Linked DNA regions of Homo sapiens: region 1 is linked to region 2. A link means that fine-mapping ties the variant in region 2 to the expression of a gene that starts in the linked region. Tissue or cell type: whole blood. Region 2 holds a variant in brackets; the other region holds the start of a gene. All regions are shown on one strand. Distances are from middle to middle.

Evidence for each region. PIP is the estimated chance that this variant, and not a neighbour inherited with it, causes the effect.
Region 1: it holds the start of TUBGCP6, and the variant in region 2 is fine-mapped to the expression of TUBGCP6 in whole blood (TOPMed, PIP above 0.99). The same link has a PIP of 0.9 or more in spinal cord, testis and thyroid.

Annotation. Positions count from the first base shown.
Region 1 is chr22:50,241,033-50,247,655 of GRCh38, reverse strand. It overlaps TUBGCP6 (tubulin gamma complex component 6), which reads left to right and starts at 2,633. Exons shown (of 25, transcript NM_020461.4): 1 at 2,633-3,937. The coding sequence starts at 3,197. It overlaps HDAC10 (histone deacetylase 10), which reads left to right. Exons shown (of 20, transcript NM_032019.6): 15 at 690-781; 16 at 921-977; 17 at 1,280-1,358; 18 at 1,564-1,746; 19 at 1,829-1,981; 20 at 2,126-2,473. The coding sequence ends at 2,149. RefSeq lists enhancers at 1-126, 2,801-2,850, 3,261-3,540, 3,114-4,044, 5,952-6,251 and a silencer at 2,261-2,330.
Region 2 is chr22:50,216,056-50,223,657 of GRCh38, reverse strand. SELENOO (selenoprotein O) reads right to left here. Exons shown (of 9, transcript NM_031454.2): 7 at 6,782-6,967; 8 at 6,530-6,686; 9 at 6,042-6,453. The coding sequence ends at 6,289. TUBGCP6 (tubulin gamma complex component 6) reads left to right here. Exons shown (of 25, transcript NM_020461.4): 14 at 1,066-1,204; 15 at 1,556-1,630; 16 at 1,784-3,407; 17 at 3,643-3,701; 18 at 3,867-4,014; 19 at 4,202-4,370; 20 at 4,449-4,590; 21 at 4,761-4,955; 22 at 5,038-5,170; 23 at 5,256-5,469; 24 at 5,541-5,740; 25 at 5,831-5,964. The coding sequence ends at 5,922. Among named protein-coding and RNA genes, the nearest start is that of SELENOO-AS1, 9.7 kb to the right of the region's middle. RefSeq lists an enhancer at 3,421-4,063. The variant T/C (reference allele first, on the strand shown) is at 3,586.

The DNA of each region.
Region 1 (6,623 bases), 24 kb before region 2:
CCTAGGGGCAGGGACCAGGACCTGCCAACGAGATGTGGCCTGTCCAGAGGAGGGCTGGGTGGTGCAGAACCACATGGATGTGAACATTGCCTTGTGCCAGGAACTGTTCCCAGAACAGCCCCAGGGGTGGGGATCACTAGTGTGTCTGACCTCTGACCTCAGCTTCTTCAGTTAAATGCTCTTTGGCAGAGAGGTGAAGGGGGTGATTTAAAGTATACATTTAGGCAGGGTGCAGTGGCTCATGCCTGTAATAACGGCAGTTTGGGGGGCCAAGGTGGGAGAAACGCTTGAGCCCAGGAGTTCAAGACCAGCCTAGAGAACATATGGAGACCCTGTCTTCACAAAAAATAAAAAAGTCAGCCAAGCGTGGTGGTGTGTGCCTGTAGTTACTTAGGAGGCTGAGGCAGGACGATCGCTTAAGCCCAGGAGTTTGAGGCTGTGGTGAGCTACAATTGCGCCACTGCACGCCAGCCTGGCTACAGAACGAGACCCTGCCTCTCTAAAAAAAAAAAAAAAAATTATAGACGTAAGCATCTTATTTACAGAAATGGAGTGATTGACCTTAGTGTAAGAAGATGTGTGGCTGACAGTAGCCGCAGAGACACACCGAATGAAGGGAACTGTGGATCTGTTTACCTGGCTTGGGAGTTGGTTGGTGCCTCATTCTCCACTGTTTATTCATCCCACAGGTGAACAGTGGTATAGCAGCCACTCCAGCCTCTGCTGCAGCAGCCACCCTGGATGTGGCTGTTCGGAGAGGCCTGTCCCACGGAGCCCAGAGGTAAGCCTCACTTGGCCATCCTGAGCCTCTGACGGCAGGACCTGTGGGCACCCCTATCCTGGCTGGCCAAGCACAGAGAGTTCTGGGAATGGACTCTGGACAACATGAACACCTGTCCTGAGGCCAGCTCTTCTTCCAGGCTGCTGTGCGTGGCCCTGGGACAGCTGGACCGGCCTCCAGACCTCGCCCATGACGGGTAGGACTCTCAGGTCTTGCATATGTCCAGCCATGCATGTGGACGGGCATGTGATGGACGTGTGCCTGGGCCCCAGGGTGACGGGTGGGTGGGGCACTGTGTGGTACTGAATGGAGCCTTCCTCAGCTGGGGTGTGGGAGAAGGGCTGCTGGAGGCAATGCCAGGTGGGTCTCCAGCACAGAGGCTCAGCAGTCACAGCACCCCTGCCCATGGCCCCGTGAATGCTCTTCCACCTCTGCCTCTGCGGTTTGGGCTCAGGAGGGTGAGCAGGGCCTTACACTTATGCACCTGTGTCCTGGAAGGAGGAGTCTGTGGCTGAACATCAGGGGCAAGGAGGCGGCTGCCCTATCCATGTTCCATGTCTCCACGCCACTGCCAGTGGTGAGTGACCATGCCACGCGGCAAGGCAGGTGCTGGGGAGCCCATGGATGTGTACAGCTGCTGTTTGCTGGCATTGTCATGATAGCAGGCCTCTGGTCCTTCCTGTCTCCCTGCTCCTACTCCAGGGGCCCTGAGATTGGGAGGTTGGGAGGCCAGAGCCAGCAGGTGTCCGTAGATGAGGAGCTGGGCTCTGCTGTCCCCACAGATGACCGGTGGTTTCCTGAGCTGCATCTTGGGCTTGGTGCTGCCCCTGGCCTATGGCTTCCAGCCTGACCTGGTGCTGGTGGCGCTGGGGCCTGGCCATGGCCTGCAGGGCCCCCACGCTGCACTCCTGGCTGCAATGCTTCGGGGGCTGGCAGGGGGCCGAGTCCTGGCCCTCCTGGAGGAGGTAAGCTGGGCAGGGTGGAGGTGCTGCGGGGTGGGACGAGGGAAAGGACCAGTGACTGCTTCCGTCTTCGCCCCTGGTCCAGAACTCCACACCCCAGCTAGCAGGGATCCTGGCCCGGGTGCTGAATGGAGAGGCACCTCCTAGCCTAGGCCCTTCCTCTGTGGCCTCCCCAGAGGACGTCCAGGCCCTGATGTACCTGAGAGGGCAGCTGGAGCCTCAGTGGAAGATGTTGCAGGTGAGGCTGACTGCGGAGGCATGGCCCTGCCCTGGGGCCTGGCTCTGCCGCACAGATCGGTGGGGAGGGCAGGGCAGGGGAGTGCCCTGAACCAGCTCCAGCGCCGGAGGCCAACTGCGCGCCTCTTCTCGGCTCCTCCTGTAGTGCCATCCTCACCTGGTGGCTTGAAATCGGCCAAGGTGGGAGCATTTACACCGCAGAAATGACACCGCACGCCAGCGCCCCGCGGCCGCGATCCGGACCCCAAGCCCACGGCTCCCTCGACTCTGGGGCACGGAACCCCGCCCACTCCCAATCCCCGCGCCCCGCCCTCTCCCACCCGTGCTTCCCCCGCTCCACCCCTCACCTCACCTCGCCCCCGCCCCACCCATCGCGCCCCGGCCCGTCCCATCGAGGCCCATGCAACCCACGCTCGGTCCCGTTCCGGCCCCTGCGCCCCGCTGCGCTTCGCTCCCCGCCCTTGCGCCGTTAGTAAACATCGCTCAAACGAAACGCTGGCTCTGCCTCCTTTACTGAGCACGCTCGGCCTCGGTCTCTCACCCGCGGTGCCGGACTCAGGCCGGAAGTATGCCGCGGCCCAGGCCTCACCAACTTCACGCGCTGCCGGCGTTCCCGTGACGTATTTCCGGCGCGCCCGCCCTAGTGCTCTTCACACTGGCGCGGCTGTGACGCGACGGAGGCGGCGAGAGCGGCAGCCGTGGGCACTTTCCACGGGTGAGGCCTGGAGAACGGGTGGACGTGCAGGCCAGAACCCGGGACCCACCCGGCTGAGCCCCCAGACTCTCCGCTGCCCACGACCCTCGGAGTGGCACCCTCTCCTGGCCGTCTCCTCTCGTGGGTCCCGAAGAACGGGTGCAAAGCCGAGTTCGTCCGCTGTACTGCGCGGGCGCGCGTTTCGTTCTTCGGTTTTGCCACGGTTCTGTGACTCCCTAAAGGTTGAGGGCTACTGAATTAGAAGAAACGCCGAGCTGGCTTCTGGTGGGCTGCCGGGCGCCGGGCAGCGTGCTTGGACTGGGGAGGGCAGGGCGTGTTTACTCTGAGTAGAGCAACCGCAAGACCTCCTTTAAAAAATACCAGTTCTGAGCTTCGGCATTGGAGAGGCCGCCTGTCATTCAGCCTCTTCGGACCCTCTCTCACTCCCTGTCTTCCGGAGCGTGAGTGAAGCCCGGGTGAGGTGTTTTCCCACACGCCGGGGGCCCGGAGCTGAGAAGGGGCATGGCCAGCATCACGCAGCTGTTCGACGACCTGTGTGAGGCCCTCCTGCCGGCTGCCAAGACTCACCTGGGCCAGCGCAGTGTGAACCGGAAGAGGGCAAAGCGGAGCCTCAAGAAGGTGGCCTACAATGCTCTTTTCACAAATCTTTTTCAAGATGAGACTCAACAGCTGCAGCCTGACATGTCAAAACTACCAGCGAGAAACAAGATCCTCATGTTGTCCTTTGACTTGAGAGTGGGTGGCCTGGGCCCCAAGGCCGACCGTTTGGAGGAGCTTGTGGAGGAGCTGGAAGCAGCCCCTTGCTGTCCGCTTTTGGAGGTGGGGTCTGTTTTGGACCTCCTGGTTCAGCTGGCAGGGAGTGGTCCCCCTCAAGTTCTGCCGAGAAAACGAGACTACTTCCTTAACAACAAGCATGTGGGGAGAAACGTTCCGTACAGCGGCTATGATTGCGACGACCTGAGTGTGTTTGAGATGGACGTTCAGTCTCTGATCTCCAGAGAAGAGTGTTTGTGTCACAGCATGATCCAGGAAACACTTCAGGTTATGGAGGCTGCTCCAGGCACTGGCCTGCCCACCGTCGGGCTCTTCTCATTTGGTGACCCTTGTGGTGACAGGTTCGAGAGAGACACCCGGGTCTCGCTCTTCGGGGCCCTTGTGCACAGCCGCACTTATGACATGGACGTCCGACTGGGCCTGCCCCCCGTGCCAGACAATGCGGACCTCTCTGGGCTGGCTATTAAGGTAGAATGTTTAGTTTTTCCTCTTTCATCTCTCTCGGGGTTTGGAAAATGCTTCCTGTGACCTTTCTTCTTCTTCTTCTTCTTCTTTTTTTTTTTTTTTTTGAGACAGTGTCTCACTCTGTCACCCAGGCTGGAGTGCAGTGGCGCGATCTTGGCTCACCTTAACCTCCACTTTCTGGGCTCAAGCAATTCTCGTACCTCAGCCTCCCGAGTAGCTGAAATTACAGGCACCTGCCACCACGCCCGGCTTAATTTTTTTTTTTTTTTGAGATGGAGTCTTGCTCTGTTGCCCAGGCTGGAGTGCCGTGGCGCGATCTCGGCTCACTGTAACCGCCGCCTCCCGGGGTCAAGTGATTCTCCTACCTCAGCCTCCCGAGTAGCTGTAGCTGGGATTTAGGTGCATGCCACCACGCCCAGCTAAGTTTTGTATTTTTAGTAGAGATGGGGTTTCACCATGCTGGCTAGGCTGGTCTTGAACTCCTGACCTCTTGATCCGCCTGCCTCGGCCTCCCAAAGTGCTGGGATTACAGGCGTGAGCCACCATGCCCAACTAATTTTTGTATTTTTAGTAGAGGCGGGGTTTCACCATGTTGGCCAGGCTGGTCTCCAACTCCTGACCTCAAATGATCCACCCGTCTCGGCCTCCCAAAGTGCTGGGATTACAGGCATGAGCCACTGTGCCCGGCCCGGTGACCTTCCTTTTATCATGGTAAAAGGGGGGATAGTCTGGTGGCTGCATTGTCCTGAGGTGGGGCTGCTGGAGTGGGCTTACTGGCGGCCACCCTCCTCTGCAGCGACAGTGCTGCCCACCTGCCGGCCAAAGCAACATGCTGCTTTTCATCTTTACCTAATGGGGTATATCGTTAAGCCACCTCTGCCTTCTAGAGCTGCCGTTTAAATTGAAGTTAATTAAAACAAAATAAAATACTCAGTTCCTCAGCCCCACAAGCCACATTTCAAGTGCTCAGTAGCCACGTGTGGCAAAAGTGTTCATGTTCTGTAATTCGTGCAATTGGATATGTTTTTGCTGTCTGTCGCCTGAGGCTTTACCATGGTACGCTGTAGCTCCTCATTTGAGTTTTGTATTTTATTGCTTTATCAGTGTTGCCAAAAGGATACATTGTTACTAGTCGTTCTATTCTTATGCGATAGCTAGATGATTTAGAAACATACATAATGCTACAGCAAATGTCTTGGTGTACAGCAGTTTTGTTTTTTGTTTTTGAGACAAGTCTTGCTCTGTCGCCCAGGCTGGAGTGCAGTGGTGTGGTCTCGGCTCACTGCAACCTCCATCTCCTGGGTTCAAGCGATTCTCCTGCCTCAGCCTCCTAAGTATCTGGGACTACAGGTGTGCGTCACCACACACAGCTAATTTTTGTATTTTATATGTTTGTATTTTTATTTTTTTATTTTATTTGATTTTTTTTTTTGACACAGTCTCGCTCTGTCGCCCAGGCTCGAGTGCGGTGGCACAATCTTGGCTCACTGCAAGCTCTGCCTCCCAGGTTCACGCCATTCTCCCGCCTCAGCCTCCTGAGTAGCTGGGACTACAGGTGCCTGCCACCACGCCCTGCGAATTTTTTGTATATTTAGTAGAGACGGGGTTTCACCGTGTTAGCCAGGATGGTCTCTATCTCCTCACCTCGTGATCTGCCCGCCTCGGCCTCCCAAAGTGCTGGGATTACAGGCGTGAGCCCGGCCTGATTGTTCTTTTTTTTTTTTTTTTTTTTTTTTTTGAGATGGAGTCTTGTGTAGGGACCAGCCCTACAGGGTCTGTGGGTTTTTCTCTCCATATGCGGAGACCAGAGATGGTAGAAATAAAGACACAAGACAGAGATAGAAGAAAAAACAGCTGGGCCCGGGGGATCACTACCACCAACACGTGGAGACCAGTAGTGGCCCCAAATGCCAGGCTGCGCTGTTATTTATTGGATACAAGGCAAAAGGGGCAGGGTAAGGAGTGTGAGTCATCTCCAATGATAGGTAAGGTCACGTGGGTCACGTGTCAACTGGACAGGGGGCCCTTCCCTGTTTGGCAGCCGAAGCAGAGAGAGAGGAGACAGCTTACACCATTATTTCTGCATTTCAGAGACTTTTAGTACTTTCACTAATTTGCTACTGCTATCTAGAAGGCAGAGCCAGGTGTACAGGATGGAACATGAAAGTGGACTAGGAGTGTGACTGCTGAAGCACAGCATCACAGGGAGACGTTTAGGCCTCTGGATAACTGCGGGTGGGCCTGAGTCATGTCAGGCCCTCCACAAGAGGTGGTGGAGCAGAGTCTTCTCTAACTCCCCCAGGGAAAGGGAGACTCCCTTTCCTGGTCTGCTAAGTAGTGGGTGCTTTTCCTAGGCACTGACGCTACCGCTAGACCAAGGTCCGCTAGGTAATGGGCGTCTTCCCAGGTGCTGCCATTACCACTAGACTAAGGAGCCCTCTAGTGGCCCTGTCTGGGCATGACAGAAGGCTCACACTCTTGTCTTCTGGTCACTTCTCACCTTGCCCCTTCAGCTCCTGTCTCTGTATGGCCTGGTTTCTCGTAAGTTACAATTGTAGAGCGAAGATTATTATAATCTTGGAATAAAGAGCAATTGCTACAAACTAATGATTAATAACGTTCATATATAATCATATTTATGATCTATAGTGTAACTATTCTTGTTCTATATATTTTATTGTACTAGAAC
Region 2 (7,602 bases):
CAGGCATCCGCCACCACATCCAGCTAGTTTTTTGTATTTTTAGTACAGACGGGGTTTAACCATGTTGGCCAGGCTGGTCTCAAACTCCTGACCTCAGGTGATCCACCTGCCTCGGCCTCCCAAAGTGCTGGGATTACAGGCGCGAGCCACCGCGCTCGGCTGAGACAGGGCATTTGTCCAGCACAGCATCTGCGTCTGTCTCCCTGTGCTGTTATCAACCTGTCCTGTGCTGTCATCAGGCTGTCCCAGGCTGAGTAGTGCTGGATCCTTCAAGGGGCTGTTTGGGGTTTTGGAGAGAGCCCCTCACGGGAGGGGCTGGCCGCTTCCTGCTCAGCCCCACGCGATGCTGTAGGTCCCAACCTTAGATCTCTTTATGGAGCGAGTGAGGGATGTGTGTGGAGGGGTGCGCGTGCCTGTGTGCACGTGTGTCCGTGTATGCATTTATGCATGAGTACGTGTTCATGCATGTATGTCAGTCGATACTGTCCTGTTAACACATGGAGAAAACCAGGCCTAGACACTACGTCTCTGGCCTGTGGCAGCCAAATTAGAGCTGGCCAGTCCAGGTTTGAGCCCAGTTGCCTGCTGGTGAGAAGCTCAAAATCATGGGGCACGATCGGTGAAGCAGGCTTTGAATTCAGCAAATAAAGCGTTTGTGTTGGTTTTGCTTCATGTGCTTTTTTGCATTAGTTTTCAGTTCTCAGGTTTGTACCTGTAGAAGGGGAAGAGGCCTAACTTCTTAGAGGCCTGGGGCCCTCGGCCTCCTGCTCACCCCTTGCTTCAGGCCACACAGGATCTCATTCTGGTATTTGTCCAGCAGATGTTGCTGAGCCCTGGCTGGACGCTGACTCACCAGGGTCTCCCAGCCTGGCAGGTAGAAGGGCCTGCCTGGTGCTGCCCTGTAGGTGCTGTGAGGGCCCAGAGCTATCAGCCCCTGGTAGGGGGAGACGGGGGCGGGGGCCCACTGGGGCCTCTGTTATGGAGAACCATCCTGGCCTGAGGGGTGCCAGGTAGATGGGGTGGGGTGACTCTTGTGGCCGTGTCCTCTCTGGTGTGTGGCTTCAGGCAGGCACTGGTCGACCACTACAGCAAGCTCTCTGCAGAGGCAGCTCGTCGGGAGCAGAAGGCACTGTGGAGAATCCAGAGGCACCGACTGGAGAGTGCACGGCTTCGTTTTCTCTTAGAAGATGAGAAACACATTCAGGTATGTCTGCGGCTTCAGATGGCAGCTCTTCCCCTGGGCTTTGGGGGTCTGGAAACCCCCTGAGACTGCACACAAACCTACATGCTCTTCTAGGAGAGGGCTGGTGGCTTTCGCGTTTGCGGCAGAGCACTCTCTCTCCCCGTGTGCCACCAAATTGCACAGATACAGGTGGTGAGGAGCTCGTGGTTTTGGAGTACTTTTTGCAGGCCCAGCGTCCCACTGGAGCCCAGCACAAGCCTTGTCTGGTTCAGTGCACATGGCTGCCATGGGCGGTAGGGGCTGTGGCTTTGTGTGGGGTAGGGCTGTGCTTGACTCCGGCTTGGCCAGTCACCCCTCTGGCTTGAATTTCAGGAGATGCTGAAAGCAGTGTCTGAGGCTCACCAGCCCCAGGAGCCGCCAGACGTCCTCTTGAGCGTGCACCCCCAGGTAAGCGGCAGAGTGGAACCCAGGGTGCCCTATGGTTTTCCCATAGCCCTCGGCACCTGGTGTTGGTCATGGCTGCAGAGCTGAACTTGGGGGACAGTTCGAGGGCTGGGGGGTCCTGAGACCAGACTGGGTCTGATGTCACCTGTGTTTCAGGTCACGTCTCCGGGCCCTGAGCACCCAGAGGGAGGCCAAGGCTGTGATTCTGGGTCTGCAGAGCAACACTCGCCTGCCTGGGATGGCTGGAACAGGCCAGGCCTGCTGACCCCACAGCCCCTTAAGCCTCTAGCAGTGGGGGCTGGTGGCAGGGGGCTGCAGCAGGCGGAGGGGGCCAGACCCTTCTCTGACAGCCTCAGCATTGGAGACTTCCTACCTGTGGGCCCAGGGGCTGAGCCGTCCGTGCAGACTGGCATGGTCCCTCTCCTGGAGGTGGCGCTGCAGACCATTAACTTGGACCTGCCCCCCTCAGCTCCTGGGGAGGCACCCGCAGCAGCCAGCACTCAGCCCTCCAGGCCACAGGAGTACGACTTTAGTACTGTCCTGAGGCCAGCTGTGGCCACCTCACCTGCACCAGGGCCCCTGCAGGCTGCAGAGTGCAGCTTGGGCAGCTCAGGGCTACAGCTGTGGGAGGACAGTTGTGGGAAGATGGATGCCTGTGGCTCCGCCTCGCGGGAGACTCTGCTCCCCTCACACCCACCCAGGCGTGCTGCTCTGGAGGAGGGGAGCAGCCAGCCCACAGAGCGGCTCTTTGGGCAGGTGTCAGGGGGTGGTCTTCCCACAGGGGACTACGCTTCTGAAATAGCTCCCACCCGGCCACGGTGGAACACCCACGGGCACGTGTCTGACGCCAGCATCAGGGTCGGGGAGAATGTGTCAGATGTGGCTCCCACCCAGCCACGGTGGAACACCCACGGACACGTATCCAATGCCAGCATCAGCTTAGGGGAGTCTGTGTCAGATGTGGCTCCCACTCGGCCACGGTGGAACATCCATGGACATGTGTCCAACGCCAGCATCAGGGTCGGGGAGAATGTGTCAGATGTGGCTCCCACCAGGCCACGGTGGAATACCCACGGGCACGTGTCCAACGCCAGCATCAGGGTTGGGGAGAACGTGTCGGACGTGGCTCCCACCCGGCCACGGTGGAACACCCATGGACACGTGTCCGATGCCAGCATCAGCTTGGGGGAGTCTGTGTCAGACATGGCTCCCGCCCGGCCACGGTGGAACACCCATGGACACGTGTCTGATGCCAGCATCAGCTTGGGGGAGTCTGTGTCAGACATGGCTCCCACCCGGCCACGGTGGAACACCCACGGACATGTGTCTGACACCAGCATCAGGGTTGGGGAGAACGTATCGGACGTGGCTCCCATCCGGTCACGGTGCAACACCCATGGACACGTGTCCGACGCCAGCATCAGCTTGGGGGAGCCTGTGTCGGATGTGGTTTCCACCCGGCCACGGTGGAACACCCATGTACCCATCCCTCCGCCCCACATGGTGCTGGGGGCTCTCTCACCAGAAGCTGAGCCCAACACACCCAGGCCCCAACAGAGCCCCCCTGGCCACACGTCCCAGTCAGCGCTCAGCCTGGGAGCACAGAGCACTGTGCTGGACTGTGGGCCACGGCTGCCTGTAGAAGTGGGGCCATCTCTGTCCTCCCCCAGCTCGGGCTGCGGGGAGGGGAGCATCAGCGTGGGGGAGAACGTGTCAGACGTGGCTCCCACCCAACCATGGTGGCCCAACACCCCGGGAGACAGTGTCTCTGAAGAACTAGGTCAGAGTAGGGTGGCTGGTGGTCAGGAGTGGGACTGTGGGACGCACAGAGCCTGGGAGGTAGGCGGGCAGTGGGGTTGGTGGCATGTGAAGTTCCCCTCAGGCCTCCTTGTCAGCCAGGACCTGGGCTGCTGTGGGGGACATGGGAGGGGCTGCTTGAGCCAGGGCCGGCTCGGCTC[T/C]GTACCCGCCACAGGCACTCGGCCCTGATGCCCTCGTGTCCACTTGTGTCCACACAGGCCCTGGGAGGAGCGGGGACACTGAGGACCTCTCTCCAAATTGGCCTCTCAACTCACAGGTTAGGTGGATGCAGCCTGGGGGTCCCACAGCAGGCAGGGAGGGCTCTGTCCCTCTAGGTTGTCACGCGGGTGGGTCCCACATGCGATTTTCCTTTTTTTGGCACAAGCTGGTTGTGGGGACAGCGTGCAGTGGGGAGGTGGTTCTGAGGCTGGTGTTTTGTTAGGAAGACACAGCTGCCCAGAGCAGCCCAGGCCGTGGTGAGGAGGCGGAGGCATCGGCGGCGGAGGCTCAGGGTGGGGAGCAGGCCTACCTGGCAGGCCTGGCAGGGCAGTACCACTTGGAGCGGTACCCGGACAGTTACGAGTCCATGTGTGAGTGCAGCAGTTGCTGTTGGCAGGGAGCCCTGGGCTGGCTGGTTCCCAGCACGTGCTCCACCTCCTGTGGGTTGGGGCGGAGCCCTGGGCTAGCCAGTTCCCAGCACGTGCTCCATCTCCTGTGGATGGGGGCGGAGCCCTGGGCTGGCCGGTTCCCAGCACGTGCGTGCTCCATCTCCCGCAGCCGAGCCGCCCATTGCTCATCTTTTGCGCCCCGTGCTTCCCCGGGCCTTCGCCTTCCCCGTGGACCCCCAGGTCCAGTCTGCCGCTGATGAGACTGCTGTGCAGCTGAGCGAGTTGCTGACGCTGCCCGTGCTCATGAAGCGCTCCATCACGGCACCGCTGGCCGCCCAGTGAGTGCCCCTGCCCCTGCGCCAGTCTGCCCACCCAGCCCGTCCTGGCCCGCCCTGACTCCAGCTCCCTCCTGCCAGCATCTCCTTGGTGAACAAGGCCGCTGTCGACTACTTCTTCGTGGAGCTGCACCTGGAGGCGCACTATGAGGCACTGCGGCACTTCCTGCTGATGGAGGACGGCGAGTTCGCCCAGTCCCTCAGCGACCTGCTCTTTGAGAAGGTGGCCTCCGGACACGGGGTGGGGCCAGTGGTAGAGGGGAGGCCGTGGGAAAAGAGAGACTGGCTGCACGCCCACAGCCCCCTGCTGCTCTGGCACAGCCCCATGGGGTGCCGGCGAGTGCCAGGCATGTGCTTGGGACTCCTGGGGACGGTGGTCCCTTTTCTGCCTAGCTTGGAGCTGGGCAAACGCCCGGAGAGCTGCTCAACCCGCTGGTGCTGAACTCTGTGCTGAGCAAGGCCCTGCAGTGCAGCCTGCATGGGGACACCCCGCACGCCTCCAACCTCTCCCTCGCTCTCAAGTACCTGCCCGAGGTGTTTGCCCCCAACGCCCCGGATGTGCTGAGCTGCCTGGAGCTCAGGTACAAGGTCAGCAGCAGCCCTGGCCGCGGGGGATGGGACAGGGGCCTGCCTGCCTGTGGGATGCCTGCTGAGCCACGCCTCCTGGCAGGTGGACTGGCCTCTCAACATTGTCATCACCGAGGGCTGCGTGAGCAAGTACAGCGGCGTCTTCTCCTTCCTGCTGCAGCTGAAGCTCATGATGTGGGCGCTCAAGGACGTCTGCTTCCACCTCAAGCGCACAGGTGAGGCCCCGCTGGAGCCCGGCGCCCCGCACCCCTGGCTGGAGGCTGCGCTCACCTCTGCCCTCTGCCTTCTGCCCTCCGCCAGCCCTGCTGAGCCACATGGCCGGCTCTGTGCAGTTCCGTCAGCTGCAGCTGTTCAAGCACGAGATGCAGCATTTCGTGAAGGTCATCCAGGGCTACATCGCCAACCAGATCCTGCACGTCACCTGGTGCGAGTTCAGGGCCAGGTTGGCCACCGTGGGCGACCTGGAGGAGATCCAGCGTGCGCACGCAGAGTACCTGCACAAGGCCGTCTTCAGGTGAGGCCTGGGCAGCGGCTGCGTCCCTGTGGTCACGGCTCAGCCCACCCAGCAGCACTGCTTCCCCCCAGGGGCCTGCTCACGGAGAAGGCGGCGCCCGTCATGAACGTCATCCACAGCATCTTCAGCCTCGTGCTCAAGTTCCGCAGCCAGCTCATCTCCCAGGCCTGGGGGCCCCCTGGGGGCCCGCGGGGTGCAGAGCACCCCAACTTTGCACTCATGCAGCAGTCCTACAACACCTTCAAGTACTACTCCCACTTTCTCTTCAAAGGTGAGGCCCACCCTGGCTGGGAGGGCTGCGGGGGGGCCAGGGCGGGGCTCACACTGTGGGCAAAAGCCTGAGCTGCTCGCTGGTCCCCAGTGGTGACCAAGCTGGTGAACCGCGGCTACCAGCCCCACCTGGAGGACTTTCTGCTGCGCATCAACTTCAACAACTACTACCAGGACGCCTGAGGCTGCTCTGCGGGGGACGTGCACAATAAAGGTGTTCTCGGACCCTGTCTGCAGCTCTCTCTCCTGGGTGGGGGCTGAGGACAGGGCAGGGTGGGGGAACAATGACCACAGAGACAGACTCGAGGGAGTTGCTGGTTTATTTAGGAGCCTGGGTCCAGCCCCCAGGGACCAGGCTGCACTGCTGAGCCGGCCTCAGACAGAGACGGGTCAGGTCCTGACTGGATGTCTCTGCCATCATGGAAAGACGGGTGTGCATGGGCCAGGGCAGAATCCCCCAGTGTATAGGGCAGCCTGGCATCATCTTGGCCACTCAGCAGCACATGGGGGCCTCGGGAGACTCCAGGGGTGTGGAGCGTGCCGAGGCCGTTACGAAGATCATGTCACGCACAGTTCTGCTGCCCAGAGCGGGGGCTTACTGCTGTAGGAGCGCTGCCTGCCGTCCGCCCCGTCGGCTTCCGTGGCCTCGGCGTCTGTGGCGGCCCCCGCCTCGCAGTGGTAAGGGGTCTCCAGTAGTTTCAGCACCCGCCGCACCTGGAGGATCAGGAGGGTGAGAGGGGTCTGGGGCCGACCCCCCTCCCAGGGACCACAGGGACAGGCGTGTGCTTGCCTCTGAGAAGTCCCCGCGCTCGGCAGCCTCGATGGCATTCTGCGCGATGTAGTTCCTCAGCACGTACTTCGGGTTGTTGGCGTGCATCACGCGCACGTGCTCAGCCTGCCAGGCGGCAGCGTCCCCAGCGCCTTCCAGGTCCTTGTCCAGCCGGGCTCTGGAATGACATCCGGGCTCTGGAGTCACAGCCGGGCTGGACTTTTTCCAGCACGCGACCCGCCGTCCCCCGGTGACCATGGACGCAGGGCTCACCTGTACGCCTGTAGCCAGTCAGCCCAGTGGCCCTGGTTCCTGCTCTGCAGCTCTGCCGCACTCAGCTGCTCCAGCCGAGACTGCTGCTCCACACGCTCCAGCTCCCTGGCGATGCCTGCCCGGGTGCCCATAAGCGCGAACAGCTGCGGGTTTGACTGCGCCAGCATCAGCATCATGGATAGCTGCCTGTGGAGAGGCCAGGGTGTCTGGGAGGTAGCCCCTGACCGTGTCCCTGCCCTGCAGGCAGCTGCTCCGCCTGCCCCAGCCCGCTCTCACGGCTCACCTAGAGTCCAAGGGCCCAAGCAGCCCGGTCCCCGAGGTCCCTGGAACCCCACTGGCAGGGATGGACCCCAGTGGGCACACACCAGGCATGCCCATGCTCGGCCAAGGCCCTTTGTGGGCCGAGGGGCAGGACCACTCTGCTGCCCAGCTTTCTGCTGGAGAGTCTCCACCTCCCGAGTTTAATGCTTGTGGGATGGGCACTGCTGTTAGCACTTCCCTCATTTCCAGAAGGGTCCAGGTGGGCAGGGGCCACGCCTTCTCCAGTGGAGGGGGTTTATGCTCAGCAGGGCCTGCTGGCCGGTGCTCCCAGCCAACCCCACTGGTCTTGTTTTTTAAGTTAAAGCAACAATATTTTCCACGTCTCATCCTGCACGTGGGCGGGACTCTTCAGACAGGGCAGCCCTTCCCTTTGGAAGATGGTGTGGGAAAGCTTGACCTCTGGGAGCCCATTCTCCCTAGAAACCCAGAGGCTTTCTCTGAAGCCCACCCACAGCAGAGACCACTGTCTGCCCCCACACCTGTGTCAGCCTCGCCACTCT